6 separate regions of the Homo sapiens genome follow, and regions 1, 2, 3, 4 and 5 are each linked to region 6. The links come from fine-mapping of genetic effects on gene expression. A gene starts in region 6. Each other region holds a variant in brackets. All regions are shown on one strand. Distances are from middle to middle. Region 1 overlaps RSU1 (Ras suppressor protein 1). Region 2 overlaps RSU1 (Ras suppressor protein 1). Region 3 overlaps RSU1 (Ras suppressor protein 1). Region 4 overlaps RSU1 (Ras suppressor protein 1). Region 5 overlaps RSU1 (Ras suppressor protein 1). Region 6 holds the start of RSU1 (Ras suppressor protein 1).

Region 1 (5,088 bases), 220 kb before region 6:
CAGATGGATCACCTGAGGCCAGGAGTTCGAGACCAGCCTGGCCAACATGGTGAAACCCCGTCTCTACTAAAAATACAAAAATTAATTGGGCGTGGTGGCGGGTGCCGGAATCCCAGCTACTCGGGAGGCTGAGACAGGAGAATCGCTTGAACCCGGGAGGCGGAGGTGGCAGTAGGCTGAGATCACGCTATTGCATTTCAGCCTAGGTGACAGAGAGAGACTCCGTCTCAAAAAAAAAAAAGGCCACCTTTCAAACTTTGGATATTTTGTTTGCTGATCCAGATATCAAGTAACTAAAAACTGTAGGAAAAGACGTGAAATCCATTTTGGTAACAAAAAGAGAAAAAACCCTCCTGACATTTTATATTATGCCTTGAGCTTAAATATATATTTCCTGGATTGCATAATATACCATGACATACCAATTTGATTTTGAAAAATACATGCATTTAATATTTTCTGATTACAAAAGTATATGTGTTCATTAGAAAAAATTTAAGTACAGAATGAATAAGTAAAATTCTAGAAAGTCTTAGTTCACAATACAGAGATAATTTAACTGCCTTAAAATAATTGTGTTCACCTCTATTTAATTTTTATGCACACGTATTACAAACAAGCTTCCTTTTGACACAGCTGGGACCATCCTTATATAGTTAGTTTTAAAAATCTTGCTTTTTCTGTTTAATCAGATGTTATGATTCTCTCCCTTTGCCCTTATTGTTGAACAATTTTTTTTTCTTGGGAACGGAATCTTGCTCTGTCGCCCAGGCTGGAGTGCGGTGGCTTAATCTCAGCTCAGTGCAACCTCTGCCTCCCGGGTTCAATCAATTCTCCTGCCTCAGCCTCCTGAGCAGCTGGGACTACAGGCGCATGCTGCGACGCCCGGCTAATTTTTTGTATTTTAGTAGAGACGGGGTTTCACCGTGTTGCCCAGGCTGGTCTCAAACTCCTGAGCTCAGGCAATCTTCCCACCTTGGCCTCCCAAAGTGTTAGGATTACAGGCATGAGCCACTGTGCCTGGCCGTTGTTCAACAATTTTTAATGTCATAAAAGCCTCATGCAGACACACCGTAATTCATTGAACCCCTTTTCCACTGACAGGGATCAGGCTTTTCTCTGTTTTTCTTGTGTATGCAATGCTATAAGGACAATTCCTAAACATTGCAGTTTGTGGGGATCTCGGATAATTTCCTCAGGATACATTCCTAGAAATAAAAATTCTGGGCCCCAGTACACAATCTTAAGGTTTTGCCACCTATCGTCAAACTGCTACGGCCTTTCTGGAGCGAAATTTATATTCCCAGTAGCCATGTGAAAGAATGTTTATTTCATGTTACTCCTCTTGCACTTAATACTGCCTTAAAAAATATTTGCACATTTCTCTTTGTTACACATGGCTTCTTTTTGCTTTGATCTGTATACTTTTTAAAAATATTACCAGTGAGTCTTCGATGATTGCTTCATGTTTCTGGGAGGTATTTCGTTCCTGTGCGTTTCTGGAGTTTTCATCTTTTGAAAAAAATGACTCATAAGAGCCCTTCATATTGTTAGATTTTTACTAATGCTTTCTTGCTGGTTTAATTTTAGGTTAAGTCTTTCCTATCCACAACAGCAAAGGCCTTGTTCTCCCTCGTGCAATCTCAAAAGCTCAAAAGTCAATTAAAAAAATTCAGGCAGAGGCATACATGGCACCTATAAAAATGATATCAACTCTATCCCTAAACAGGGGATGGGACCTGGGGAAGCCACTTCCCACATTTAAATGTTCTATCAGGAATTTGTCTAGAAGCCAGAAGTTTAGACCTTGCTCTGTGGCCTCTCTGATTGAAATGCGAAGTCTGTTTCCTAAGTAACTCAGAACTTGTTGTTTGATTTTGATTTTTGACTTTTTTATATGCCCCAGTGGGTCCTGGTCTTGGGAGCTCAACTGGGAAGCCGAAAGGATACAGCAGAGATTTTATATGCCCCAGTGGGTCCTGGTCTTGGGAGCTCAACTGGGAAGCCGAAAGGACACAGCAGAGAAGGGCAGGCCCCCTCTCCCAGGCCATTTGACTCTCCCAGGCCATTTGAAAAGACGGTGCATCTTCACATACCATTTTTTTTGTGTCGGCCTTCTGGGGTTGACAGCCCTTTCAGTGAGCACAAAACCTCAGCTTGCATTTATTTTGATTTTCGTAGGTATCACTGTTGAAAAGAAGGAAAGCTGCCTATCACAGATGTTAAACAAACAATTGATTGTTTAATGACTCTGCAACTGTGGTTTCCACCCTGGGTGTGGTGTAGCGCGTGCACATTTACACAACTTCCTTGGCATCGAAGTCGCTTAGAAGAATGCTTCGATGCGAGCAGATTTTCCGCCGTGACAAAATACACAGTTGAGGTTTTTTCTCTCTCTCTTTCACAGTTCTTGTCTACCAGCCCCTGGCAGAAATCACCATTTCTTCGGCGAAGGAATGCTACTTTCCAAAATCCTTTGGCAGAATCTCCTAGAGATTTGTTTTTCTGCTTCCTAATTTAGAAAGTCTTCAAAGAAAAAAAAAACTTGACAAATTAATGTGAGAAGAAACGAACTGTGATTTAATTTTGCATTTCTTTCATGAAAAGTTTATCATGTATAACCAATAAAATTGGATAAGATGATTTTGGGGGAGAAAAGTAAATGAAAATGTGTTATACCCCAAGATCAGACTGTTCTTTTATTCTGAGTCAATAAGTAACATGTGATACAAACTCAAGATTTTATTAAAATCATTTGTAAGTTAAATTAGCATATCTCGGTGGTGAAGGAAGACTTTTAATAAAGCAAAATAATGAGTTAGGTGAATCAACAGAAAGAGTGAAAAGTGTTAACAGTGACATTTAAATGGTTACATGATTTTAATTATTCTTTTGATAATAAGCAACCTTGTGATATCTATTCAAGAAAAGCCAGAGCCCACTATGGAATTCGCAGTTGAATAAGAGCTTTGTTCCCTGCTTTTGGTAATGT[T/TAAAG]AAAGAAACAAATGGAAATGGTTTAAAGACCTTATAACAATCTCCCACCTAGCAAAAGAATCTAAAAGGTAAGGTGGGAAGCATTAGAAAGAGAGTGAAAAGAAAAATAAAAAAGGCCTCACACGCAGCATTGGGTTTATTTGAGAGACAGGGCAAGAGAGAATGAAGTGTTGGAGAGAGAAGGTGCTGGAAGGCCAGCCGATGCCAATCCCTTCCTTATCTGTTCTTGGCTGCCAGGGGTTTCCGGCTGATCTTTTTCGATTTGTCATTATTCTTCTTCGGTGGTTCTGGGTTGGCCTGCATGTGTCTGCCGTAGAGGCTGCAAAGACAGAGAAAGGACACTATCAGATCTATTTTGCCAACACAAGATAGCTTTCACTGGAAGAGCTTTCAGGAATAGAAGAATCTCCAAAAATATTCAGTAAGCCAAAGAAAACCAAAAGATCACTTCTGTGTTCTCTGGGTGCTACGCTGTGTTGAATATAAAATTCTCTTACACATGCACGCCATGCCATGATGTCCGATCACGGACCAGTCTCTTGGGATTTCACACTCACTGGGAGAAGTGGTCAGGCCCTGCTCAGCCGTTCTGGACTGAAGTTCAAAAGCTTATGAGTGTTTAAGTCGACAGTGATAAAAATGGGATTGAATGGAAGAGACAGAGTGTCCATTTAGTGAAAAGCGAGCATGATGCTTGGCCCGAAAGCCCAGGGGCTGGCTAATGGGACAGAGAGCAATGGTGTCCAAATCTGTGCTGGCTGCTCACCCATGATGGATAGCGTGGGGCTGGCCACCACACATCAATGCCACATTAATAAGTACCGCTGATTAAATGCTGACAAAGTGCCCTATAATTACGGTGGATGGCATTCATTGCGCAGCGAAGCTGGCTCCGTGGCTGAGAGGATTTAACTGAACAGCAGAAGGTAATTAATCGATAATTTATGAGTAATTCTGATTAAACCAAATTAAAAGCCACCCTAAAATAAATACAGCTCAAACTTAACTCCTTTTATTGATATAACTGTGTCTCCAAGAGAGCCTGGTGGGTGTCTCAGGTCCTCTGCAGCAAGGGCATACCCGGCTCCACAGCCCGCAGTTGCTGTGAATGAGGGTTGGCACAGAGCCTGACGTCCCTGTACCAGGTGGCCCAGCTCCAGCATCCACACAAGGAATATGCACACTCTCTGGATGCTGGCATCTTGGGCTGTTTAGCATATACTGGCGTCCGGCATTTTTTTTTTTTTCCTGAGTGTCTCACTCTGTCACTCTGCTCCCCAGGCTGGAGGGCAGTGTATGATCATAGCTCACTGCAGCCTCAAACTCCTGGGCTCAAGCGATCTCATGGCTCAGCCTCCTGAGTAGCTGGACTACAGATATATGCCACCATGCCTAGCTAATTAAAAAAAATATATATATCATATATAATATCTATTATATGATATATATGATAGATAATATGATATATATGATATATATCATATATTATCTATATCATATATTATCTGTATATTATATGTATCATAGATAATATATGATACATATAGATAATATATCATATATATCATATAAAATATACTATATTATCTATTATATATCATATATATATATATTTTTTTTTTTTTGAGATGGAGTCCTATTGTGTTGCCCAGGCTGGAGTGCAGTGGTGTGATCTTGGCTCACTGCAACCTCTGCCTCCCAGGTTCAAGCAATTCTCCTGCCTCAGCCTCCTGAGTAACTGGGCTTACAGGCATGCACCACCATGCCCAGCTAATTTCATATTTTTAGTAGCAATGGGGTTTCACCATGTTGGCCAGGCTGGTCTTGAACTCTTGACTTCCAGTGATCCACCCACCTTGGCCTCCCAAAGTGCTGAGATTCAGGCGTGAGCCACCATGCCCCAACAAAAAAATTATTTTAATAGACATGGGGTCTCACTAGGTTGCCCAGGCTGGTGTTACACTCCTGGCCCCAAGCAATCCTCCTGCCTTGGCCTCCCAAAGTGGGATTACAGGGATGAGCCACTGTGCCTGGCGTCCAATACTAGTGTTCTTGATGACATCTCCACCATGGCTGACAGGCAGAGGGGAAGGGCT
Region 2 (5,096 bases), 21 kb before region 6:
TAAGCCACCTAAGATATGCAGTCACTGGATGGTATTAACAAAACTTGGTGAGCTACAGCTACTCTGCAAGCCACTGTACTTCTTTGGTGGGACAGGGATAGAATATGAGTGAGATGCAGCTGCTGCCCTCAATGAGCTTCCTCTGCAATAAGGAGATGAAATAAAACACTAGGATACAATACAGAAAGTGATGGTGAATGTTATTTGTCAACTTGACTGGGCTACGAGATACCCAGATAGCTGGTAAAATGTTCTTTTCCAGGGTCTGTGAGGGTGTTTCCAGAAGAGATTAGCATTTGAATCAGGGGACTGAGTAAAGAAGACCTACCCTTGCCAATGCAGGTGAGCAATAACCAATTCATTGAGCGCCTCAATAGAATAAGAAGGCAGAGGAAGGGAGAATTCATGAAGATCCATCTTCTCCTGCCCTCAGACATCAGAGTTCCTGGTTCCTGGGCCTTCAGATTCTGGGACTTGCATCACTGACACGCACCCCTCCTATGACTCTCCAGCCTTTGGCCTTGCACTAAATTACATTACCAACTGTCCAGGTTCTCCAGCTTGCAGACAGCACATCATGTGACTTCTTAGCCTCCATAATCACCTGGGCCAATTTCCATAATAAATCTCCATATATATATTGCCTATGGATTCTGTTTCTCTGGAGAACTCTGACAGGCAGACTTGTACCATAAAAGTACTAAGGTGCTTTGAAACTCCCATTAAAAGGGAAGTGCCTGAAAATTTTTTTAGGGTTAATAAAACCTTCAAGGACCAGAGTCCATTTTGTTTTATTTCTAACTACCTTCCTCCTCTGTCTCTTCTTTTTTCTTTTTAGCTTGTTTGTATTGACTAATTTTTCTAGCATAAACTATTTTATTTGTGTAACACAAAACTTATGCAGTTTTAGAAATCATGGTTATAGAATGTTGGAGCCAAAGGAACTCTAGAAATCAAACAACTTAAGCTCCTCAATTTACAGATAAGAAAACAGTGGGCCAGAGAAGTAAAGGTATTCTAAGATTCCACGGGCCAGCAGAATCAGAACAGAGTACAATCAAGGTTTCCAGATTCTAAATCTTGAGCTTCTTCTTTGCAAACTGGAAAATTATTATTGACACCTGGATGGAATGTCCTTTATGACAGCAATTCCAACCATAATAAAAATAATATAAACCTGAATGGAAAATTCCTTCCTATCTAGAATAAAATAAGACACAAAAGCAAAGCAAAGAACGCACAGTTCCTAGCAGGTGAGACCTGCCCTGTCATCCCATGAGATCCTGAGAAAAATCACTGGATTGTTCTGGAGCACAAATTCCTCATCTTTAAAATGAAACAAATAAAAGAGAGAAAAAAGATTATTTATGTAATGACCACTACATCACTGTGTTGTGCTGAGCACTTTACATATGTGTTCACTAGAATCAAAAATGTTAGAACAGTCCCGGCGTGGTGGCTCATGCCTGTATTTCCAGCACTTCGGGAGGCCGGGGCAGGCAGATCACCTGAGGTCAGGAGTTCGAGACCAGCCTGGCCAACATGGTGAAGCCCCATCTCTACTAAAAATACAAAAATTAGCCAAGTGTGATGGTGGGTGCCTGTAATCCCAGCTACTGGGGAGGCTGAGGCAGGAGAATTGCTTGAACCCAGGAAGCAGTGGTTGCAGTGAGCCGAGATCGCGCCACTGCACCCAAGCCTGGGCGACAGAGTGAGACTCCATCTCAAAAAAAAAAAAAAAAAAAAATTAAAAAAAAATAAGGTAATAACAAACAACAATAGCTAATGCTTACCAAATGCTTAAAACATGACTGGCACAGTTCTAAGAACTTTATCAATTCACCTATTTCTCACGATAACCCTACAAGGCAATAGTAGTCTCTTCTTCCCTCTCAATTTTAGATGAGAAAAATGAGACACAAGAGGTTATGTAACTTGTCTGTGATTTCAGAACTAGTAAGCAGAGAGAACCCCCTAAAAGCTGTTTCCAAACAAGAAGCTGATTAATTCTGATACTGTCTTACTGGCTAAACAAATATGCCACCGGTTGCATCCACAATTTGCCAACTGCATGGCATTTTATGATGTTCAAAAGACAAGGAGTTTAAGTACACAGGTTGTTTTTTTGCCAAAGTTAAGACATGAGCAGTATTAACTGTGCACACTTTGCATTTCAGAAAATTGGGTGTATCTTCAACCCCCCGGACCCCTAAACAAGCCGCCCAGGTGAGGCACCGGCACCCTCTTCCCAGGGGCTGATGTCAGACGTTTCTCTATCACTCTCCATTCTCCGCTTGAGCAGCAGCTCTCTGCGTCCGCCTCAACCTTCCCCCATACTTCTCACCTGAACCTGGCCCCACATTTCCCTGGGAAAAGTAAACCTTCTTT[T/C]CAAGCAGGAGGAGCTGGAATCCTAAACCTGCTGTCTGTACAAAAGCCACATGACTCTTGGAGCTCTAAGAGTTCTAAGTCCCTCAACAGTCACTAAATATTAGAAGACCATGGTGTGCCACCTGCTCTTACCCGAAGGCAAAACATGATTTGGTCTCGTAGGCAGCTCAACCATTATTTTTAACCTTGGATTTTGATTCTCTCCCCACATGTCATCCCTTATCCTGGCCTCCAAGTGTTGCCTTCTCCAATCCTATAACCAGTCACCTAGATTGACATTGATCATCAATCAGCCCCTAAGTCAAACTTAGGTGTGTTTCTTCTGATCTGCTCCAGGGCCTCGCTACGTCTTCACTGTGTGTGATGTCTCTTCTCCCAGTCCTGCTCCAGTCCATTCCCTCCACCTTTCTCTCAACACTGCAAACAAATCTGCCATCAATGACACCCACAAACCCTCACCCTCTTGTTCTTTCCTCACCCCAAAGGCCCATTAGACTCTTCACCCCTAAATCCCCCTCTTATCAGAGCTCCCACAATGGCAGCTTCAAAACAGACTATGCCACTGCTCAACAAGTATGAAATTGTCAAACTGTTCATCACAATGATCATTTTTTGAGTACCTGGTCTGCATCAGATACTACATACACATTATCCTTCATTTGAGGAGAAGCTTATTTTTCCCACTGTACCAAGGAGGAAAAAGTGTAGGTGCAGGAAACGTGGAGGCAGCATGGCAGATTTTAGGAATCCTGAAACCCTACATCAAAATAGAGAAACTAGGCAGCAAGAAAAAATTCAAGGACACAATTTACAACAAAACTAGGTTATAAAGTGTCCCCACAAAAAACTCCAAAATACAAGTAGATGAGGACAAGCTACCAGTAACCCAAAGATTGGCATGATATCAGCATGCATGTGACGAAAGCAGAGAGAACCCAAGGGGCAACTAACAAACTTGACAACTGAGAACCCCCGAATAGCTAAACAAATTCACCAGAAAGCCCAGAAGACCTCTGTGAGAATAGCAGCTGAAATTAGGAAGGGTTTGCCCATTCCAACAGCAGGGCCTGCAGTAGGGTCTGATGGATTAGGACAAGTCTAGGCCCTGTGACCTGGAAACTGACCACCTAGGGCTCCCTTGCAGGACAGGGCCTAGAATCAAAGCTGGATAAGACAGAAATAATAGAGACCAATGATAGAGGCACACTGCCTATAGGGTAGCCCTACTCCACAAGGAGCAGTAAGTAAAAATAAAACGCTTTTAAAAAGAGAGAGAAAAAGAGACCAAGGATAGAGAAGATCCAGATAAAAGTGGGCAGAAGGACTGAACCAAGTCATCTGAAAGCAAGCCACTGTATTTCTGAAAACTACATAAAATCAACCAGAGGACAGAGCTCTGTAAAGTTAGAAAAGCTATCTAGAACTAAGCCTTCCTCTGAAAGTTTAGGAAAATTAATTTCATTTAAAAATGAGCAACATAAAAAATATTGGGAGCAAATCCCATAACGTTATTATGGAATAAAAGGAAAAAGAAAGTGTAGAAGAACATCATTGACCATGAAAACTCACTAACCAAAAAGATGCCCAGAACACAGGGCAAAACTATAATTGACTATTTCAAAACAAGGTAAAAAGCCATTACAACAATGATACATGACACAAAACAGAAACATAAATCTGATTTCCAAAAATTCAGCAATAAAGGGACAAAACTTAAGAAAAAAATTAGAAACAAAAAAAATTATTTCAGAAATGAAAGCTAAATTCAAAGACATATAAGAGCAAATAAACACAATACGTAATACTTTACAAGAAACAGAAGTTAAAGTGGGGATTTCTTCTTTTTTTTTTTTTTTTTTTTTTTGAGATGGAATCTCTCTCTGTTGCCCAGACTGGAGTGGAGCGGGGCAATCTCGGCTCACTGTAACCTCCGCCTCTCGGGTTCAAGGGATTCTCCTGCCTCAGCCTCCAGAGTAGCTGGGATTATAGGTGCCCACCACCACGCCCGGCTAATTCTTGTATTTTTAGTAGCGACGGGGTTTTACCATGTTGGCCAGGCTGGTCTCGAACTCCTGACCTCACCTGATATGCCTGCCTCGGCCTCCCAAAGTGCTGGGATTATAGGCATGAGGGATTTCTTTTAAAACAAAGAAATGAAGCAAGAACAGGGATCTGGGCAAAAGTGACAAATATTAAAGATGGGCAAAAAAATCAACATACAGACCCCAGAAAACCATAAAGAACATAAGGAAAGAGCTCATAGACTAAAAATCACAATAAAAATACTTTCTTGAAATAAAAGGTATTTAAAAGTTCTGATATGGTTAGGCTGTGTTCCCACCCAAATCTCATCTTGAACTGTAATCCTCATAATCTTCGTATGTCAAGGGAGAGACCGGGTGGAGATAACTGAATCATGGGGGTGGTTTCCCCCATACTGTTCCCCCGATAGTGAGTTCTCATGAGATCTGATGGTTTTATAAGGGGCTCTTCCCCCTTCGCTCAGCACTTCTCCATCCTACTGCCTTGTGAAAAAGGCACCTTGCTTTCCCTTCCGCCATGATTGTAAGTTTCCTGAGGTCTCCCCAACTATGCTGAATGGTGAGTCAATTAAACCTCTTTCCTTCATAAATTACCCATCTTGAGCCGTTCTTTGTAGCAGTATGAAAACAGACTAATACAATTTTCAAACTTTAAAGAGCATACTA
Region 3 (5,096 bases), 62 kb before region 6:
GCTGGGTAAGCTCCCCGATTTCCTTAGGCAGCGAGATCAGGTCGTTATCCCTAAGGCTGAGCTAAACAGAAGAAAACAAGTTGTCAACATATTTACACATTAAAAGGTGCTCCACAGAAACTCTCATCCTCTATGTCCTCTCTTCTACTAAAGCTCAATCCTTTCCATGTATTTACAAGTGCCGGCGGATAATCAAGAAACACTATCAGGAGTAGTGGTTTATTCCCACAAAACAAACCTTACTCCTGCTCAAATTGACTTGATTCTACCCCTACAAGGCTGCAGCAGTGAATTGATTTTCTAAGAATTTAGATAAATTACTTACTATCTGCAACTTTGTGAGCTTCCCAATATCTGGCGGCAGGATTTCAAAATCGTTGTCACTTAGATAGAGTGCACGCAGGGTGGCTGCAAATTAAACAGCAATATATAAACAGGGTGGCATGGAACACAACCATTTGAGGTCTGATCAATACGAGGGAGTCAGCTTTGATTAATAACCCTGGCTTGGTGAAAAGCCTTTGACATACCTAGGGCTCCCAATAATAACAAGCAGGTCAAACTTAGATTTACTGGCTTATTGTGTAGCTGGTGTGTCCAGGAAAACATCTATATCCAAGAGGAATGACGCAATTAACAACTGTGGGCGCCAGCATTTTGGGGCACAGAGTTTCAGCACATTTTCAGAAAAGATTGCTATACTTCTCATAGATTACTTTTGATTCACATTTATTTCTCCATTTGCATCCAAAGTAAAACAAAGAACACTACTGTGCCACTTTTATGGATACCTAGGGCAAAAGGGTTCTTTCAAGAGAATACAGCTCTGTTAAAATAGACCTTTTCCTATGTAAATAGCACTGTGTTACAAATTAATGGAAGGCTTTCTGGTGATGGAGGCTATAACCACAGCTCATCAGTTCCATAATCTGACTAATTATTACTACGTGTTTCTACAGCCTTAAGGACAAAAGTAAATGAAGACAAAGAGGCTAAAATAATGACATGAAGTTAACAGAGTAAATCCTAACTTAAGGAGAATATCAGTAGTCAGAAATTTGTTCATAATTATTACACAATGATAATACGATTCCAACCTACTGAAGGCTAAAATTCTAAAGCATCTGTTTATCTTCAACCAAAAAAGCTGAGTATAATTAGATACATGTTTTGTTTACCCGTATTTATTTTTTAGAGACAGAGTCTCGCTCTGTCACCTAGGCTGGAGTGCAGTGGGTCACTGCAGCCTCAAACTCCTGGCCTCAAGCACTCTTTCTACCTCAGCCTCCCAAGTAGCTAAGATCACAGGCTCATGCTACTATGCCTGGCTACTTTTTAAATTTTTATTTCTAGAGACAGGGTCTCTCTATGTTGCCCAGGCTGGTCTTGAACTCCTAGCCTCAAGTGATCTTTGTAGCTCATACTCCCGAGAACTGCATGTTAATATAACATAATAAAAATAGTTGCTCCACTGCCCAAGAAAATATTTTATAGTTGGTTTCATGTGCTTGAGAAAGTCATAGAAAGGTAATGTACGTAAGGTAAAAAATAAAATTTTAGAGATCAGCTCTGAAAATTCAGATTTTCTGAATGCCACACAAGTTACTATTTGAAGAAATAGAACACTGATTTAAGGGAAGCAAACCTTGTCCAAAATAGTGCATGAGTTCCCAGAAGAAATCATTTTTTAATTTTCAAAAGCATCTCCAGCAAGAAATTTGTTTGCATATGAAAGAATAAAGTGTGTTCACCTGTGGCCAATAATTTCTTAATGCCTGTGTACTGGATAAATAGGTCAATAAGAGTACTTTTTAAAAGGCTCAAAATAGGAATACTGGCTGGAAAATTTTAAAATTGTGTTACTGGTTTATTAATAAATATTTTTAATAAATAATTGGTTGGAATATCCTGGGCAAATATCCTACAAAGAATTAATAGCAACATAGGAAGATACTTTTTTTTTTTTTTTTGGCATGCTATTTAAAAAGAAAGTCAAGTCTCTTAGCTAAATGTGAGGCTTGATCTCATTTAGGTATATAATCTCTCTCAGAATGTTAATATGACATTACTAAGTCCACTTCAGCCCAATGGTGTCACATAACGATCTATCAAATGCACATACTGCTGAGCTACGAAGGAATATTCAAAAGGAGTCTCTAAAGAAAAAATTATCTCTGTCCAATAATTTCTCTTGGAGTTTGGGTCCTGGCAAATAAATTTCCCTCTCAGAACGCAAAGTACAAGGTTGAGGAGATTTATAGAATTGAAAGTTTCTTACTCAGGTAGAAGAAGTTTCCAGGAAGAGAATTTTCGCTCAAGTTGTTGTACGTCAAGTCCAGAACCTCAAGAGCTGGCAGGGAGCCGAAGCCTCGTGGCAAAGTGTTCAGCCTGTTCATGCTGTTGCAGGGGGACAAAAATCTATGTCATGACACCAAAGACAC[A/G]TTCATACAGACTATCAAGGGCACCTCTGTTTCAGACGCTGAAAGTGTAAGACAGTGCCATGATCCTAGAGTCACTTTATACTTTATTTTTATTTTTTATTTTTTTGAGACAGGGTCTTACTCTGTTGCCTAGGTTTTAGTGCAGAGGCATGATCTCAGCTCACTGCAGCCTCAACCTCCCCAGGCTCAAGCGATCCTTCCACTTCAGCCTCCCAAGTAACTGGGACCACAGATGCACGCCACCACGCCCTGCTAATGTTTGTATTTTTTGCAGAGATGGGGTTTTGCCATGTTGCTCAGGCTGGTCTCAAACTCCTAAGCTCAAGCAATCCTCTCACCTAGGCCTCCCAGAATGCTGGGATTACAGGCGTGAGCCCCCATGCCCATCCTTTTTTTTTTTTAATTAAAAAAAGCATTTATTTAATATTTACAATGACAAAGATTGTACATACTTATGGTGTACAACATGATACTTCTGATGTATGTATACTACATCATGGAATGGTTTAAATCATACTATTTAACACACGCGCTGCCTCATATGCTTGTCATTTTTTTTGTCTTTTGTGGTGAGACTGCTTAAAATTCACTCTCTTAGCAATTTTCAATTATACCACATATTGTTATTAACTGCAGTCACCATGATGTACAATCCATCTCTTGAACTTATTTCTCCTAACTAAAATTTCATGTCCTTTGGCTAACATCTCTGCAATTCCCCTCTCCCTCCAGCCTGTGGTAACCATTTTATTCCCTGTTTCGATGAGGTTTACTTTTTTACATTCCACATATAAGTGAGAAGGTGTGGTATGTTGTCCTATTTAGGCTAATAATTTCAGTCAGACAGCTTACATGATCTTGAAACACTTGAAAATTTCTTAGCTGTTATTTTCCTCCAACGGTGAAACTTAATCACTGCTTTACACAAAAACTCAAACCATTACAAAATATCTTTCCTTGTAAAGAACAACTTCCCTATGAACGTAGTGATAATATCTCAAAATATACACATGAAGCTTTGTAGTTTTCAGGCTTTTGCTTGATTTCATTCCATTTATTCCTTTTTTGGAGGGAAAATCATGTTTTTGTTCTACAACTGCTAACACTGAAAATTATCTTCAATTAGAATGGTGATGGCCAGGGGCTGGAGGGAGGGGGAATGGAGAGGTGTGGTTTAATGGGCGTAGGATTCAGGTTTGCAAGATGAGAAAATTCTGGGGATTGGCTGAACAACAATGTGAATACGCTTAACACCACTGAACTGTCTACTACAAAGACGGTACATTTTGTGTGCATTTTATCACAACCTAAAAAATTTTTAAATCATACAATTGACCCTTGAGCAACATGGGTTTGAACTTCCTGGGTCCAATGAGACATGGATATTTTTCTTCTACCTCTGCCACCCCTGAGACCGCAAAACCAACCCTCCGCTTCCTCCTCAGCCCACTCAACATGAAGAGGACGAAGACCTTTAAGATGATCCACTTCCACTTAAAGCACAGTAAATGCACTTTCTTTTCCTTACGACTTTCTTAATAACATTTTCTTTTCTCTAGCTTACTTTATTGTAAGAATGCAGAATAGAATACATGTAACATACAAAATATGTGTTCATCAACTATTTCTAGTTTTGGTAAGGCTTCCAGCCAACTGTAGGCTATTAGGAATTAAGATTTTTCGGAGTCAAAAGTAATGTGTGGATTTTTGACTGCATGAGTCATTGTGTTGCTCCCGCAACCCATGTGTTGCTCAAGGGTCAATTGTGTGTGAGTGTGTGTGTGGGGTGTGTGCTGTGTGTGTGTGGTATTGTGTGTGATGTTATGTGTATGTGTATCTGGGTGTTTCGTGTGGTGTGTGAGGGGTGGGGTGTGGTGTGTGAAGGACGTGGGGGGCTGTGTGGGGGCGGGTATGTGTGTGGTGTGGGGTAGGTATGAGTGTGGTGTGGTGTGTGTATAGGGTGTGTTTGGGGGTGTGGTGGTGTGTGTGTACGCAGTGTGTGTGTGGTGTGTGTGTGGGTGTGTTTGTACACGGTATGTGTGTGTGCTGTGGGTGTGGTGCGTGTGGGTATGTGTGGGTGTGCGTGTGTGTGTGTGGGCGTGTCTCCAGTGAAGTCTAAGGGAATTTTTTTCTACACTATCTTTTATCCTTTCTTCAAGCCCCTTATTTTTCTTAACGCAGTTCCCTTTGAGCATACTTAAAAGCCAATTTTTAAAAAAAAAATTTAATAAAAGTTGACAGATACTGAAAGGTGGAAGGGACTGTGACAATAAAAATCATTCTAGCCATCGATCCTTCTCCTAACACATTCAGCTCCATCCAGCCCTACCAAGAGGGCCTCACCAGAAACAGCTGACAGCAGAGGGGGCAACCAAAAGGGAAACGCGGGTTCCCCCTGTCAGGCAGAAAACTTCCCAGACAGACTACACCCAGCAAAACTACCTCCACGACTATCTACTGCCACGACAGCAAGAACAAACATTCTCCATGAAGTCACAATTTGTGAAGCACATTATGGCAAGGACTTCGCTTGTTCACTAAAACTACCTTGCAATACAGGTAAGATGGAGCTTGTCATTAATGCTATGTTGAGATGAAAAAACAGCCTAAGAGAGGGTGAGGAGCCAAGACTTCAGAAGTGACTGATGAAGGCGA
Region 4 (5,096 bases), 100 kb before region 6:
TACAATATTCTCTTATTGAATTTATCCTTTAATCATGACATAATGACCTTTTTTCTTTTTCCAGTTTTTGACTTAAAATCTGTCTTATCTGATACAATTATAGCTACTCCTGCTCACTTTTGGTTTCTGTTTGTATGGAATATGTTTTTCCATTCCTTCACTTTCAGTTTATGTTTGTCTTTAATGATGATGTGAGCCTCTTGTAGCCAGCAGATAGTTGGGTCTTATTTTTAAAACCTGTTCGACCACTCTGTGTTTTTAAATTTGAGACTTTAATCCATTTATATTCAAGGTCATATCAATAAAAATTTATTCCTGCCATATTGTTGTTTTCTGCTTGTTTTGTAGATCCTTTTCCCCTTTCTTTTACTCATGTTATTTTCCTTCGCGGTTTGGTGGTTTTCTGTGCTGCGAAGTTTTGTTTTCTTTCTCTTTACTGTTTATTATTCTGTCGTAATTTCTTTCTTTGTGGTTACCATGGGGCTAACATAAGAGTCTTGTAGTTACAATAGACTACATCAACCTGATAGCAATTTAAATCTGGTTGCATGAAAATATTCTAGACTTAACCCCATACACAATTAATATTTTTGTTGCCTTAATCTACTTATTTATTATATATTTGTAGCCACTAAGTGTGGTTGTTGTTGTTTTTGACCTTTTTGACTTCTAAGTCTTCATACTAGAGGATTGAGAGATTTACATAGGACCATTAAATCACTAGAGTATTTTATGAATTTACCTCTACTAGTGAGTTTTACACCTTCACATGTTTTCATGATAATTATTGTCCTTTCTTTTCCAGTGGTAGCACTCCCTTAAGCATTCCTTATAAGGCCAACCTACTGGTCACAAATTCTCTCAGCCTTTGCTTGTCTGAAAAGGTCTTATTTCTCCTTCATTTCTGAAGGATAACTTTGTTGGATATAATATTCTTGGCTGACAGTTCCTCCTCCCCACAAGCCCCCCTTCTTTCAGCACTTTGAATATATCATCCCATTCTCTTCTAACCTGCAAGGTTTCTGCTGAGAAATCTACTAGTAGTCTAATGGACATTCCCTTGTGTGTGATGTGACACTGTTTTCTTGTGGCTTTTAAAATTCTGTCTTTAACTTTTGAGAGTATGATTATAATGTGCCTCAGAGAGGACTGAATCTAACTGGGGACCTCTGAACTTGCTGAATTCCTATGTCCGTATTTCTGCCAAGACTAGGGAAGTTTTCATCTATTATTTCATTACATAGGTTTTCTGTGTCTTTCTCCAACTCTTCTCCCTACGAAGTTCCTATAATGCACACATTTGTTCATTTAATGGTATCGCATGAGTCCCACAGGCTTTCTTCAATTAAAATTCTTATTTTTTTTTCCCTCTGACTGGGATAATTCAAGAGGCCTGTCTTCAAGTTCAGAAATTACTCTGCCTGATCTAGTCTGTTGTTGAAGCTTTCACTTGCACTTTTTATTTCATTCATAATTCCTCAGCTCCAAGATTTCTGTTTGGTTCTTTATGACACTTATCTTTGTTGCATTTCTCATTCGGATGATGAATTGTTTTCCTGATCTCACTGAATTATTTGCTGTATTCTCTTGTATCTCCATGAGTTTCCTTAAGATTATCTTATTTTCAGGCATTTCATAAATGTCCTTTTCTTTGGGGTCTTTTACTAAAGACTTATTGTATTCCTTTGCAGGTATCACATTTCCTTGCTTTTTCACATTGCTTGTGTCCCTATGCTGATATCTGAACATCTAGTGGAATAGTGACCCTTTCCAGGTTTATGAAGTAACTTTCATTAGGAGATAATTCTTCCTGTAGATAGGTCCCAAGGTGTCATTTGAGTGTGGTGAGTTAGCTTTAGTTCTGGGTGGACTCAGTAGCATGGTCTACATGTAGTTTTTTCAGCTGCAATCTTCATCAGCAATGTCTGCAATTGCCTCAATGGCCTATGCTGTAGGTATTTGTGGTGGTCGTAGTGTGTGGTTTTGCTGGGAGTAGGGGTGTTGGGCTGGCTGTTGGGCTGAATATGTATGGGTGTGGAGGGCGAAAAGGCTCTCCAACAGGCTTTTCAGGGAGGTGGGGCCACCACTAGTCTGGCTGTTGGGCTGAGCTTAGGTGCATATGGGTGTGGCTAGCTGAGCAGCTACGTGGCTGTCTCTTCAAGAGGATGGATGAAGAGTCTACTGGTCTGATGCTGTGCCAGCTGCACATAGGTGCAGCTGT[G/T]TCAGGTGGCCCTGTAGGAGTCTGTCTAGAGGAGCAGGTCCACCACTGGCCCAGCTCTTGGGCTGGATGCCAGTGTGAAATGGGGTTGGGCAGCCTTGCAGTTATTTGGGAGGGAGGGCTGCTACTGGACCAGCTGTCAGGCTAGACATAGAATAGCAGCATTCAGCTGCTCTTTGGGTGTCTGTATGCGGGAACGAGGCTGCCACAGGACCAACAGTTGGACCAGCTATGGATGCACCGCGCTTGGTGGGACAGGTGGCTATGGTGCAGGTACGTGCAGGAGAGGTAATTGGCTGACTGTTCAGTGACTTCAGCACCGTACAGATCTGCCTGTTCCCTGGGGGGTGGGGGGATGTGGTGTGTCACTTGGGTTTGAACACTGGGGTCTCAGTCATTCCATGTGACCTATGCTTTGGGTAGCTATGGTCATAGTGCTGCAGGTACCTGTGTGAATGTGGTATAAGGACAGCTAGGCCTCCAGGATGAAAAGAGTCAATTGCTACTGGTGCGCAGGGCAGGATGCACTCTAGCAGTGGGAAAGGTTCAAGATGGGACAGAGTTGAAGCTGCTTAGGTTGCGGGTCCTCAATGTGGACACTGAGGCATTGCATCTGTGTGAGCTCCCGGCTACTCTCCAAACTGGATTGGGGGCCTGTGAAGTTTAGGGGACTCCTATATCAAAGACTGCTAGCATTTCTGGTGGCAATGGGGACTGCTGGGAATCACCAGCATACATTTCCCCATAAACAGCACCCCATGACTGCCAAGTCTCCACTGGGGGAGACTGTGGCAGAGGCAGGATGCCTCGCTCACCTGTCCATGGTGCTGTCCTGGCCTTCCATGCACCACAGGAAGTTTGCTGCTCCCCTAGTGCGGTCCAGCATACTTCCTCGTCACTCTAGTTGAAATATAGTTGTTTACTTGTTGTTTAGATCCCCTTTTGGGGGAGGGATGAGCACTAGGCAACTCTCATTGGCCATATTGCTCTGGGTTGCCTTTTCATTGTGTTGATGTTGTCTTTTGATGCACAAAATTCTTAAATTTTCATGAAGTCCAATTTGCCTATTTTTTCTTTTGTTGTCTGTGCCTTTGGTGTCATAGCCAAGAAGTCATCTTAAAGTCCAACGTCTTGAAGATTTTATCCTACAATTTCCCCTAAAATTTTTATAGTTGTAGTTCTTACATTTAGGTTTTTTATTCATTTTGAGTTAATTCTTCTATATGTTATTAGGCAAGGGTCCAACTTCATTCTTTTGCATATGCCTATGTAGTTTTTCACTTCATCATTTCTTAACAAGACTGTCTTTTCCCCATTGAGTGGTTTGGGCACACTTGTCAAAAAATCACTTGACCATTTAGGCAAGGATTTATTTCTGGGGTCTCTATTCTATTCCATTGGTCAATATATCTGCCTTTAGGCCAGTACCACACTGTTTTGACTACTGGAACTGTAGCAAGTTTGAAATCAGGAATTGTTAAATCCTTCAGTTTTGTTCTTTCTCAAGGTTGTTTTGACTACTTGAGGTCTGTTGCAATTCCATATGAACTTTAGGGTGGGATTTTCTATTTCTGCAAAAAACATCAGCGAGATTTTCATAGCGAGTGCATTAAATCTACAGATTGCTTTAGATAGTGTGATATACTTCACTAATAGGTCAGAACAAGTATTTTTAGCAGGTTGCATTTAAATATAGGCAAGCATTTCCCTATTCAAGAGTCAAAACAAAGTAGAAAAATTTTTCTTAATCAGATAATTTATTTACACAGTCTTTAAAAAGAACAAAATCTCATGTAAGTATATGTTGAACAAATCTTCTTAAAAGAATAAAATCTCCTTAGTCGGAATTCTTGATGAAAATCATCACACAGAGATTATGGAAACTGAAACTATCTCAGAAAAAGTTCAAATGTAGGAAAAGGAAGAACGGGTCTAGATAGGGCATCAGAGAGACGCCTTCACAGGCAGGCTAAGGGAGGTGGGTGCCAGGGCCAGGGCATAAATGTTCAACTGAGTGTAGCAGGACTACGATGTTCTGTGGGAGGCTTGGAGCTCTTGGAGTTGAGGTGTTATATTTTAATCTATCTTTATTTTTAAGAGTAGAAACGTCTACACTATTGCAGAGAAAAAGCCATGACTCACTTTTCACAATGTACATGGCTGATCCTAAGCAGTTCTGAGAGCCCTCACATATTTCTGCAAGTTTGAAAATGCTGCTTTCTCTGGGAAGTCGGGTAGGGAATGAGAGGCAAAGGGGATATGCCCTCCTGATCCCTGCCACCTCCTTCCATACATGATATGAGCACCAAAAGACCACACTCATCAGGTGAGATAAGAAGACTCCAGGGGACTGCCTCTTCAGGAGGCACTGATAAGCGTATTTCAACCTTTGATCTATAACCACGTATACAAATACACTATTGATAACATTACTTAGAAAAGGAGTCTGACCATGATCTAGATGCCTGTACAACTAAAGAGCCCTTTCAGAGAAGTTTGGAGGGTATGAAGCGTTATTAAATTTTAATTTCTAAAATATGTAATAGGAGGAAATGACTTCTTAGATACCTTCATAGGAGACAAGAGGTCAAACAAATACAGACTGATTTCATCACTGTGCATATGATCACGTAATCTTAATATTCATCTTAAGAACCTTCCCTTTTTAATGTCTAACCTCAAACCCTGTTGCTAAAAAAGTATGGGAATTTTTTCAGCCAATAGGACAAATACTGAAGTTTAAATGTCATTGTAATATATTACTAGACACTTGCTCATAGGGAAGTATGAAACGAAATTAACTTTATTTTTTTATTTACATATAAATACCCTTGAATCCAATTTTATTAAAGGTTAAGTAAGGGATCAACCTACTATA
Region 5 (5,096 bases), 200 kb before region 6:
ATAAAAGTAATCCATCACATTAACTGAATCAAGGACAAACACCACATGATTATCTCCATAGATGCAGAAAAGGCCTTTGATAAAATTCAACATCCCATCATGCTAAAAACTCTCAATAAACTAGGTATTAATAGCACATATCTCAAAAAGATCTGTTTATGACAAACTCTAGCCAATATCATACTGAACGGGTATTCCCTTTGAAAAATGGCACAAGACAAAGATGCCCTCTCTCACCACTCCTATAGTATTGGAAGCTCTGGCCAGGGCAATCAGGCAAGAGAAGGAAAGTATTCAACTAGGAAGAGAGGAAGTCAAATTGTCTCTGTTTGCAGATGACGTGATTGCATATTTAGAAAACCTTATTGTCTCATCCCCAAAACTCATTAAGCTGATAAGCAACTTCAGCAAAGTCTCAAGATACAAAATCAATGTGCAAAAATCACAAGCATTCCTATACACTAATAATAGATAAGCAGAGAGTGAAATCATGAGTGAGCTCCCATTCACAATTGCTACAAAGAGAATAAAATACCTAGGAATCCACCTTACAAGGGATGTGAAGGAACTCTTCAAGGAGAACTACAAACCACTGCTCAAGAAAATAAGAGAGGACACAAAGAAATGGAAGAACATTCCATGCTCATGGATGGGAAGAATCAATATCATGAAAATGGCCATACTGCCCAAAGTAATCTATAGATTCAATGCTATTCCCATCAAGCTACCATTGCCTTTCTTCACAGAATTAGAAAAAAACTACTTTACCTTTCACATGGAACCAAAAAAGAGCCCATATAGCCAAGACAATCCTAAGCAAAAAGAACAAAGCTGGAGGCATCATGCTACCTGACTTCAAACTATACTACAAGGCTACAGTAACCAAAACAGCATGGTACTGGTATCAAAACAGATATATAGACCAATAGAACAGAACAGAGACCTCAGAAATAACACCGCACACCTACAACCATCTGACCTTCGACAAACCTGACAAAAGCCATGGGGAAAGGATTCCCTATTTCATTAATGGTGCTGTGAAAACTGGCTAGCCATATGCAGAAAACAGAAACCAGACCCCTTCCTTACACCTTATACAAAAGTTAACTCAAGATGGATTACAGACTTAAATGTAAAACCCAAAACCATAAAATCCCTAGAAGAAAACCTAGGCAATTCCATTCAGGACATAGGCATGGGCAAAGACTTCATGACTAAAACACCAAAAGCAATGGCAACAAAAGCCAAAATAGACAAATGGGATCTAATTAAACTAAAGAGCTTCTGCACAGCAAAAGAAACTACCATCAGAATGAACAGGCAACCTTCAAATGGGAGAAAATTTTTGCAATCTACCCATCTGACAAAGGTCTATTATCTAGAATCTACAAGGAACTTAAGTAAATTTACAAGAAGAAAACAACCCTACCAAAAAGTGGGCAAAGGATATGAACAGACACTTCTCAAAAGAAGACATTTATGCAGCCAACAAACATGAAGAAAAGCTCATCACCACTGGTCATTAGAGAATGCAAATCAAAACCACAATGAGATACCATCTCAGACCAGTTACAATGGCAATTATTTAAAAGTCAGGGAACAACAGATGCTGGCAAGGCTGTGGAGAAATAGGCACACTACTACACTGTTGGTGGGAGTGTAAATTAGTTTAACCATTGTGGAAGTCAGTGTGGCGATTCCTCAAGGATCTAGAACCAAAAATACCATTTGACTCAGCAATCCCATTACTGGGTATATACCCAAAGGATTATAAATCATTCTACTATAAAGACACATGCACACGTATATTTACTGCAGCACTATTTACAACAGCAAAGACTTGGAACCAACCCAAATGCCCTTTGATGATAGACTGGATAAAGAAAATAGGGCACATACACACCATGGAATACTATATACACCCATAAAAAAGAATGAGTTAAAGTCCTTTGCAGGGACATGGATGAAGCTGGAAGCCATCATTCTCAGCAAACTAACACAGAAACAGAAAACCAGACACCACATGCTATCACTCATAAGTGGTAGTTGAATGATGAGAACACAAAGACACAGGGAGGGGAACTCACACACTGGGGCCCGTGGTGGGGTAGGGGACAAGGAAAGGGAGAACATTAGTACAAATACCTAATGCATGTGGGGCTTAAAACCTAGATGATGGTTCATA[G/C]GTGTGGCAAATCACCATGGCACATGTATACCTATGTAACAAACCTGTGTGTTCTGCACGTGTATCCCAGAACTTTAAAAAAATTATAAATAAAATGGGCATTCCACCTGCTACCTAATAGAGTAGTTATGAGGACTGAACATCAGGTACTTAGCACCTCATTGAGAATGATTCCCTTAGAGGACAATGTTTACAATTCTGACCAAAATACTCAAAACACGTCTACTATGAAGTGCTAAGAAATTAAAAATGAATGGCAAGACAGATGGAAGCCTGCTTCAGAAAAATATTACTTGATAGAATACTCACGTAGTTTACAAAATATTCTATGCCTTCTGCCAGCAGCAAGCATCTACCTGGCAGTATGTGACAGAGAGTAGCATGTTTTCACCTCACAGTCTTCTCCACGTGGTTCCAGATAGGAGTCTTCACTAGGGAGAGCTGATGGTGACATGATCTACCATCAATGTCCCCTCTGTGATGTCAACGGGAACAACTGCTGTGATTCACAGTGAACCAATCTAGGCACATCGGGTTCCCTGCTCTTTCTCTTGGGAGGTACCACTTAATCTCACCCCAGTGTAGCATTAAAACAGAAACAGAGGGAATGAATCAACTGTCCTGCTTCCCATCAGTAGGTATCTTCACTGGGTTCCCTAAGGAAGTGCCTCGTGTGTTTCCTTGAACAAAAGGTGGCAGGACAGAGCCCTCAGCTCAATGGTACATCAAATAAACTCTGAAAGACTCCTGAGCCTAGACTTATGGACACATGGACAGAATATGGTCATTTCTTAGCTAGAGTTACAGAGAAAAAGCAACTTTGGCAGTTATGTTAGCTATATCTATCTCCCTTCACTTTTAACTTACAAATTTCATTTTCCAAAGAAGTAAAAATATATTGCAACCCATTTAGAAATTCACAAGGGAGTTCAAAAGAAAACTGCAGAAGTATCCCACTTAAACATAACTTCTGCTTCTATTTTCGTATATTTCTTTCAAGTTTTCATCCAAGGTACTTAAAAAAACAAACCAGTAACAATCACAGGGTGCCAACAGGTTTATACATTTATATAAAAATTATGACATCAGTATACCACATACTCATAATTATTGACAGGCTACCTATGAATTCATGCTATGTTTCATAATTAACGTGAACATTGCTCTGTTTTGGGGGAAACTGCTTCAAATATTCTGCTTTATCAGAATAGCAATGTCAGTGGTGTGGCTTTGAGCAGGTTATTTAACCTATCTGAGGTTCAGTTTTTCTCATAAAAAAGTAGGGATCAATAATATTAACCAGCAACATTAAAGTGTTGTGAAAGTTAAAAGCGAAAATGCACTTTAAGTATCTTGAAAAAATGTAGGCTGCTGTTGATGTCAATAGTGGATGATAGTGAAGTAATTTCTCACGGAGTTTTCTTGAAAGGAATCACATCTACATATAAGCAAAAAACAGTGAGGAGGGGAGGGAGGATCTGCTCTTTCATTTACACATGAGATTTCTTTGGGAACTGACATTCAGTGGGGAGACCTAACTCACCTCTACAGTGGGGGAACCAGATGTGGCCTCAGCAGGTCTCACGAGAGGTCAAGACAATCTTCCATTTTTGCGGGAGGGGAGTTACTGGCATATGTACAAAATGTTAAAAAAAAAAAAAAAAGTCTCGCTCATGCCTGTAATCCCAGCACTTTGGGAGGCCGAGGCGGGCGGATCATGAAGTCAGGAGATCAAGACCATCATGGCTAACACGGTGAAACCCCGTCTCTACTAAAAACACAAAAAATTAGCTGGGTGTGGTGATGGGTGCCTGTAGTCCCAGCTACTTGGGAGGCTGAGGCAGGAGAATGGTGTGAACCCAGGAGGCGGAGCTTGCAGTCAGCTGAGATCGCGCCACTGCACTCCAGCCTGGGCAACAGAGCGAGACTCCATCTCAAAAAAAAAAAAAAGTCTCAAAAATGGTAGTGAATTTTATTTTGTAAAAAATTCCTCCCTCTCTTCTTTCCATTTTGAACAACAATGCAAACTGGGCAGTCCTGAAACCAGAATAGGTGCAGAGAGACTCTAAAAAATTCCCTTGCAGTGTTTTTTCAATCTGCGTACTTAACCAAGTAACAGTTTAAGACCAAGGACACACAGAAGAATTAAAGCAACAAAATGACTTATGTGTGACTTATTTGTGACACAGGCACAGTAGTAACCTGTGCAATTCTGCCTCTGCCAGGGGATATTTGGCAATGTCTAGGGATATTTTTGGTTGTCAATTGTCACACCTTGGGCGCCTGTGGGGGTGTGTTATTGGCATCTAGCAGGTGGAGATCAGGGATGCCACTGAACATGCCACCCTGCACAGGACATCCTGGCCCAAAACATCAAGAGTGCTAAGGCTGAAAATTTCTGGTGTAAGAAAAACTTACAGGTAAAATTAAATCTGAGGCCCCTACGAATATTAACACTATGGACACTGGCTCTGTTTCCCGTACCCAGCCTCAGTCCCTGAAATGTAACATTTCCTTCCAGTAGTGGTTCCCAAAGGTGTTGTATGAGAAGATTCTATGTGTACACTGATGCAAGTTGTCAATTTTAATGACTGTATTAGTCTGTTCTCACACTGCTAAGAAAGACATACCCAACACTGGGTAATTTATCAGGAAAAAGAGGTTTAATGAACTCACAGTTCCACATGATTGGGGAAGCCTCACAATCACGGTGGAAGGTGGAGTAGGAGCAAAGGCACATCTTACATGGCGGCAGGCAAGAAAGCTTGTGCTGGGGAACCCCTCTTTATAAAACCATCAGATCTCATGAGACTTATTCACTATCACAAGAACAGCATGGGAAAAACCTGCCACCCATGATTCAGTTACCTCCCACTGGGTCCCTCCCACGACACATGGGGATTATGGGAGC
Region 6 (5,078 bases):
GAGCCTGGGAGGGTGAGGCCCCAGGGAGCTGTGACTGCACCACTGCATTCCAGCCTGGGTGACAGAGCGAGACCCTGTTTTCAGGAAAAAAAAAAAAAAAAAGAAAAAAAAATTCTTACACTTATAATTAATGTAGCCATGTGAAGTATTTTAATACTTGTATATATTAAGCACTGTGTCAGTGTGTGTGCACTGCTGAGAAGTGAGCCCTGGTGGAGGCTTCGAAGAGCATCCTGGAACCCCCTAGGCTCCGAGAAGTCCTGAGGTCAGGGAGTTTGCAGAGAGCAGCCTTGGCTCAATGCTACAGAAGCCAGAGGAGATGGAATCTGCAAATCTCCAAATTCACTTCCACCCAACTTCCCAAAAAGTACTATTATCCGTTGTTAGCTACTTCTTTAGGAAAATTTAAGAATGATCTCGCTTTTCACCACCCAATGTTATACCGGAAATATATTTCAGGAAGCAAGTGGCTTTTCTTCCTTAATAAAAGCCAAGGCTTCAAAGAGATAACGGAGCTGAACCGAAATAGCTAAGCCATTCTCCCCATTTATAAATATTACATAAAGTCTCCTCTTCAAAAGCCGAAGGGTACAAAGCTCCTCTGCTGAAAGCAGCCTCTCTTCTACCTGGTGAGAATGAGTGCTGTAGGGAGGAAGGCCATGGGGCCAAGGTTCCCGCTATGCATCATCTTCCCTATCCCCTTCTCTTTCTCCTCTGTATCAACAGTGCCCCCAATAATGACCATGGTCATGGCAGAGCCGGGCAGGCGCAGCAAGGGGCAAACTCAGATATCCAATTCCAGAGGCATCTGCTCAGTTGCTGACAGCAAGGACCCTTACGGAATGCAAGAGACCAACACACACCAAGCCTGAGAGGCTAACTAGTACACAACCTAAGTTTAATGGCACGTATTTTCATAAAGCCTACGAAACGCAAATCTACGTTTCCTCCCTTTTCCTTCTGCCAAGACATATCAATAGCATCAACTCCAACCTCTGTCCCAGGCAGGTTTTCGAACCGTGAAAACCGTGAATTCACAGTAAACCTGACTCTGCAGTTCTCTCCATGCCTAAATGGCTATCCATCGCCTTTCAGGGTCTCCTGAACATCTCCCTTCTTCTCTCTTGTCACATCCTGGAGTTGATATCCCAAACTCACAGGCCTAATCCATCATTCTTTCATTTTCTTCATTCCTCAACTATTTTTGAGCATCTACTGTGCTCCAGGCACTATTATTAAAAAAATGCAAGCATGAATATTGCACAGCTTTTGTCTTCCCAATGTCCCAGCAGAGAAGAGAGACTTCTAGATTAAAAAAGAAAAAAATCAGTACAATCCTATGTGAGAGGAGTCACAAAGCAATACACACGACCACCTTCACAGAGGAGGGAAGGGATATGTTAGCCTGGTGCAGACGGATAAGGTTTTACACAGGTGGTGATGTCTAAGCTGACTCTTAGAAGTAAAAGGATTTCAGGTGCAAACGACTGAGAAAGAGGGAAAACAGAATTTGTAAAGGCACCAAGATCTGAACGAGTAGGCTCTGGTCCAGGAAGGGCAACAGGTTCAGAATGGCTGGAATGCCAGCTGCATGGAAGGGTAAGGTTGTGTTCAGATTCAGAAAGGCCTTGTACATCACGCCAAGAAACCTGGAGCATTACCGTCGATAATGGACAACCTGGAGAAGTGCGGAGAGGGTTTAAACCAAAGCCACGTCAGCCTGAAGAACTGCTTTAGCTCACTTATCACAGGTTTTTCAAATATTAGAATTAGTAGCCAACATCTAAAAATTAGCAAATTTCACATAAAAATATAGAATCTTGGTTCCTTTAAGAAAATAATCTGGCACATTGGGCCAACATTCCTATGGTGACATGTGTCTGAGTAGCAGGTGCAGCAGCTGGCCCCTTCAAGTGGGACACCTATCACCTAGTTCATAACCGCCCCTGACCGCCCTCACTTGGAGGCATGTGAATCTGCAATCCCTGGTTTTAAGGGAGAGGGTAACACCATAGACAGGGGTTACAGGAAAATGACACTGAAAGTGACCCAGTGATTAAACTGGGCAGTGAAACTGAAGGCAAGAGGGCAAGTTAGGAGGATTTCACCACAGCATGAGGAGGTGACAAAAGCCTGAACCAAGTTCGGAGAATAAATACTCAGAAGAATGTAAAGATTCAAGAAATGCTTAAAACGCTCCAGGCACAAGAATGCTTATTAACCATGGAACTTTTCTGTGTCATTTGTTCATGGACAAAGACTGTATTAGGAGACAGGAAGAAGGACTCAAAATTAATTTTCAATTTATAATTAAAGTGACTATTAAGCAAACTGTGGAAAATCCACCTCAATGCCATACAGCAGAGACAACCGATGAGGCACAGCTGTCTGTGTGATTCTCATCGTGGACTCTCAGGATCGTTTTCCAGGTGGAACAGAACAAATCCTACTGCAAACCCTCTGCGCGAAGCCCCTGACAAGTGAGGTTTACAAGCAGGGGCTGGGGTCTAAACCAGTACAATCGCTCACAGCAGGACCAGCAGTGAATTGGCAAACTTAGAAAGCCTTCCAGCTCATCCACGGGAGAGTCCTGCCCGAGAACTCACAGAGGCCGTTGACATCCAGCATGTTGGAGATGCCCCGGTCACTCATGTCCACCTCGGGCTGGTTCTTCTCCCGGCTCTCCTCCACCAACTTCTTCAGAGACTTGGACATGGTCTGCACCGAACAACAACAAAGCACGTGGGCGATGACAGCAAGCGCAGAGGCGGAAAGGCAAGAGGCCTTCGCTGCCACTCTGAGGCTTCCCCAGGGTTGGAGCGGGTGGGCGTCCGAGGGCGTCCCAGGGGCTGGTCCGGGTGCGGGGAGGGGATGGAGTGGGAAGGGTTCAGCCCCGCTGCGGCCACGCAGCGAGAAGCAACCCCAAGTGCAACACCGCACACACTCACCACGGAAGGTAGCCCCTAAGACGATGGGCGTGCAACCACAAGCTTCGGCAGAACGCACTCCAGCTGCCCTCACTCCCTGCAACACCGGCACTGAACAGCGAACACGCCCTGTCTCGGCGCCCCGCGCAGGCGCACACAGCGCCGCTGCCAGCTCCACGCCCGACCCTACCCATATTAGGAGAACAGCTCTCCAGACGTGTCTCCAGGGCCAGGCTCCGCCCTTAAAAGTCTGTGGAAGAGGCTGGCTAATCACGTTCGTTATTCGGCTTCGAGACCCCGCCCCACGCTGAGGATAGTTTATCCCGGTGGCGTCCACCCCACGGTTTGGGACGCTGATTGGGCCGAAGTTGGCGCGTGCGCAGTAGACTTGGCGCAAGCTCAGTTGATGGGTCGAAGCCCAGAGGGCTGTGGGCGGAAGTGGGGAAGTTTGTGGCGTGACTGTGTAAGGGAGGGTGGTGGCTCAGGGTGGGTGTTGCGAAAGCTGGAAGTAAATTGCTTCCGAATGTTTCGCTTGTGTAATAGCCGCTCCACTCGCCAGAAGTTGCTACCCTGAGCCCGTCTCCACAATGTGCCTCTGAGGGACCTTGTGGGGCACGCAGTTTCCCGCCCTATTAAGAGCTTCTCCAGGCGGGGATTCCGGCGCGGTCTGCGTTTCCCCAGCGCCCTGCTGGAAATCTTTTTTGACAGGTTTCTAAGGCTGGCTTTTAGCCTTTTTACTTGTAGCTAGAACCTACAAGTAAAACCCTACTATTTTAAAAGTCATTTGAAAACACCACTAAAGCGATGTGTCTTTCCCAACTAGGACTTTTACATTTGTGAAACATGACGTTCTGGCTTCCAGGAATCTCTTGCTTTCTCTTCCAAAAGCAACCAAATTTTAAATTCTAGAGAAACTGTTGCCCTCTGCCTCCCTATTTCCTGACCCAGTCTCAGTCACCCAGCAACATCCTGTGCTTCTCTCACCAAAAACCCTGTCCTGAGAGACTATTTTATACTATGGAATAAAAATTGGCACCAGGCACTTTTCTTCTACTGGTCACCTAAATTGATGATAAGACGGATGCCACACATATGCATTTATATATTGTAGATTGTAGCAGGGATCAAAGCCTTAAGGAGATGTGGTAAAATAATGTAATTATATCTCCGAACCAATTGGATAAAAAAAGGATCTGCACTCTTAAATTCGAAAGCAGGTATTTCTTGCTTAAAAAACATTCCAGATGAAAGAGTTATTCCTCCATTAGTCTTCTTTGATCTGGAACCGTCCTTGGCTTTTATGTTTATTGAACTAGACATTATTTAAGAATACAGACCAGGTATTGTGTGGAATATCCTTCAAAGTAAGTTTGATGTTCCCTTTCAGGTTATGAATTTTTGGAGAAACACCACTAAAGCGATGTGTCTTTTCCAGTGCATGATATCAAGGTACAGATGGCATCGGTTTCTCCCAGTATAGGTGATGTTCACTTAAATAAGGTAGTGTCTGCCAGGTTTCTTCACCATAAAGTTACTATTTTTTTCTTTATGATTAAAAATAATGCTGGGGGGAGGTGCTACTTGATTACACCCCATTCCTCATCTAATTTTTACCCACAAGTTTTAGCATCCACTGATGATTTTCTAACTTCATAATTTCATCAATACGTATTAGTAGGTAATCTCCTAATACATTTATTTCTTGAATCATTAACTCTTTTAAAGCAAAAGTCCTGTTTTGAAGCAATCAGAATTTTTCTTATTCTATCAATTTCTAATAGTGAATCTTGCCTAGGTAGGCTGAAGACATACAGTACCTGTGTTAGTCGGCTAGGGCTGTCGTAACAATATACCACAGCCTGGATGGCTTAAACAACAGAAATTTCTCACAATCCTGGAAGTTCTAGATCAAGGTGCCAGCAGATTTGATTTATCCTGTGGCCTCTCCCCTGCCTCGTGGACGACTGTCTTCTCTTGGTGTCCCTCCAGGGCATTTTCTCTATGCAGTCACACCCTTGGTGTCTCTTCTTCTAAGGACACCAGTCCTATTGGACTGCCGGCCTATAATAACACCCTGCATTTGTTTCATGAATGTACTCTCTTCTCAGGTATCACCGAGGATAATAGTTTTTAAACCTCTCTTCTGTTCAC

Evidence for each region. PIP is the estimated chance that this variant, and not a neighbour inherited with it, causes the effect.
Region 1: its variant is the best candidate, but not a certain one, in a credible set for the expression of RSU1 in whole blood (INTERVAL, PIP 0.74).
Region 2: its variant is the best candidate, but not a certain one, in a credible set for the expression of RSU1 in cerebellum (GTEx, PIP 0.86).
Region 3: its variant is the best candidate, but not a certain one, in a credible set for the expression of RSU1 in whole blood (INTERVAL, PIP 0.54).
Region 4: its variant is the best candidate, but not a certain one, in a credible set for the expression of RSU1 in whole blood (TOPMed, PIP 0.51).
Region 5: its variant is the best candidate, but not a certain one, in a credible set for the expression of RSU1 in whole blood (INTERVAL, PIP 0.57).

Annotation. Positions count from the first base shown.
Region 1 is chr10:16,590,186-16,595,273 of GRCh38, forward strand. RSU1 (Ras suppressor protein 1) reads right to left here. Exons shown (of 9, transcript NM_012425.4): 9 at 426-3,311. The coding sequence ends at 3,209. Among named protein-coding and RNA genes, the nearest start is that of C1QL3, 71 kb to the left of the region's middle. The variant T/TAAAG (reference allele first, on the strand shown) is at 2,993.
Region 2 is chr10:16,793,628-16,798,723 of GRCh38, forward strand. All of the region lies in intron 2 of RSU1 (Ras suppressor protein 1), which reads right to left. Among named protein-coding and RNA genes, the nearest start is that of RSU1, 21 kb to the right of the region's middle. RefSeq lists enhancers at 1,840-2,059, 2,270-2,329. The variant T/C (reference allele first, on the strand shown) is at 2,389.
Region 3 is chr10:16,752,593-16,757,688 of GRCh38, forward strand. It overlaps RSU1 (Ras suppressor protein 1), which reads right to left. Exons shown (of 9, transcript NM_012425.4): 5 at 2,279-2,397; 6 at 326-408; 7 at 1-61. Among named protein-coding and RNA genes, the nearest start is that of RSU1, 62 kb to the right of the region's middle. The variant A/G (reference allele first, on the strand shown) is at 2,442.
Region 4 is chr10:16,712,041-16,717,136 of GRCh38, forward strand. The region is part of intron 7 of RSU1 (Ras suppressor protein 1); the gene reads right to left. LOC124902384 (a long non-coding RNA gene) reads right to left here. Exons shown (of 2, transcript XR_007062072.1): 2 at 3,957-5,096. Among named protein-coding and RNA genes, the nearest start is that of RSU1, 100 kb to the right of the region's middle. The variant G/T (reference allele first, on the strand shown) is at 2,222.
Region 5 is chr10:16,616,724-16,621,819 of GRCh38, forward strand. All of the region lies in intron 8 of RSU1 (Ras suppressor protein 1), which reads right to left. Among named protein-coding and RNA genes, the nearest start is that of C1QL3, 97 kb to the left of the region's middle. The variant G/C (reference allele first, on the strand shown) is at 2,186.
Region 6 is chr10:16,814,367-16,819,444 of GRCh38, forward strand. RSU1 (Ras suppressor protein 1) reads right to left here and starts at 3,058. Exons shown (of 9, transcript NM_012425.4): 1 at 2,949-3,058; 2 at 2,607-2,718. The coding sequence starts at 2,715. It overlaps LOC105376435 (a long non-coding RNA gene), which reads left to right and starts at 3,333. Exons shown (of 3, transcript XR_930708.3): 1 at 3,333-3,390; 2 at 4,315-4,376. RefSeq lists enhancers at 2,537-2,696, 3,367-3,476, 3,507-3,596, 3,627-3,676.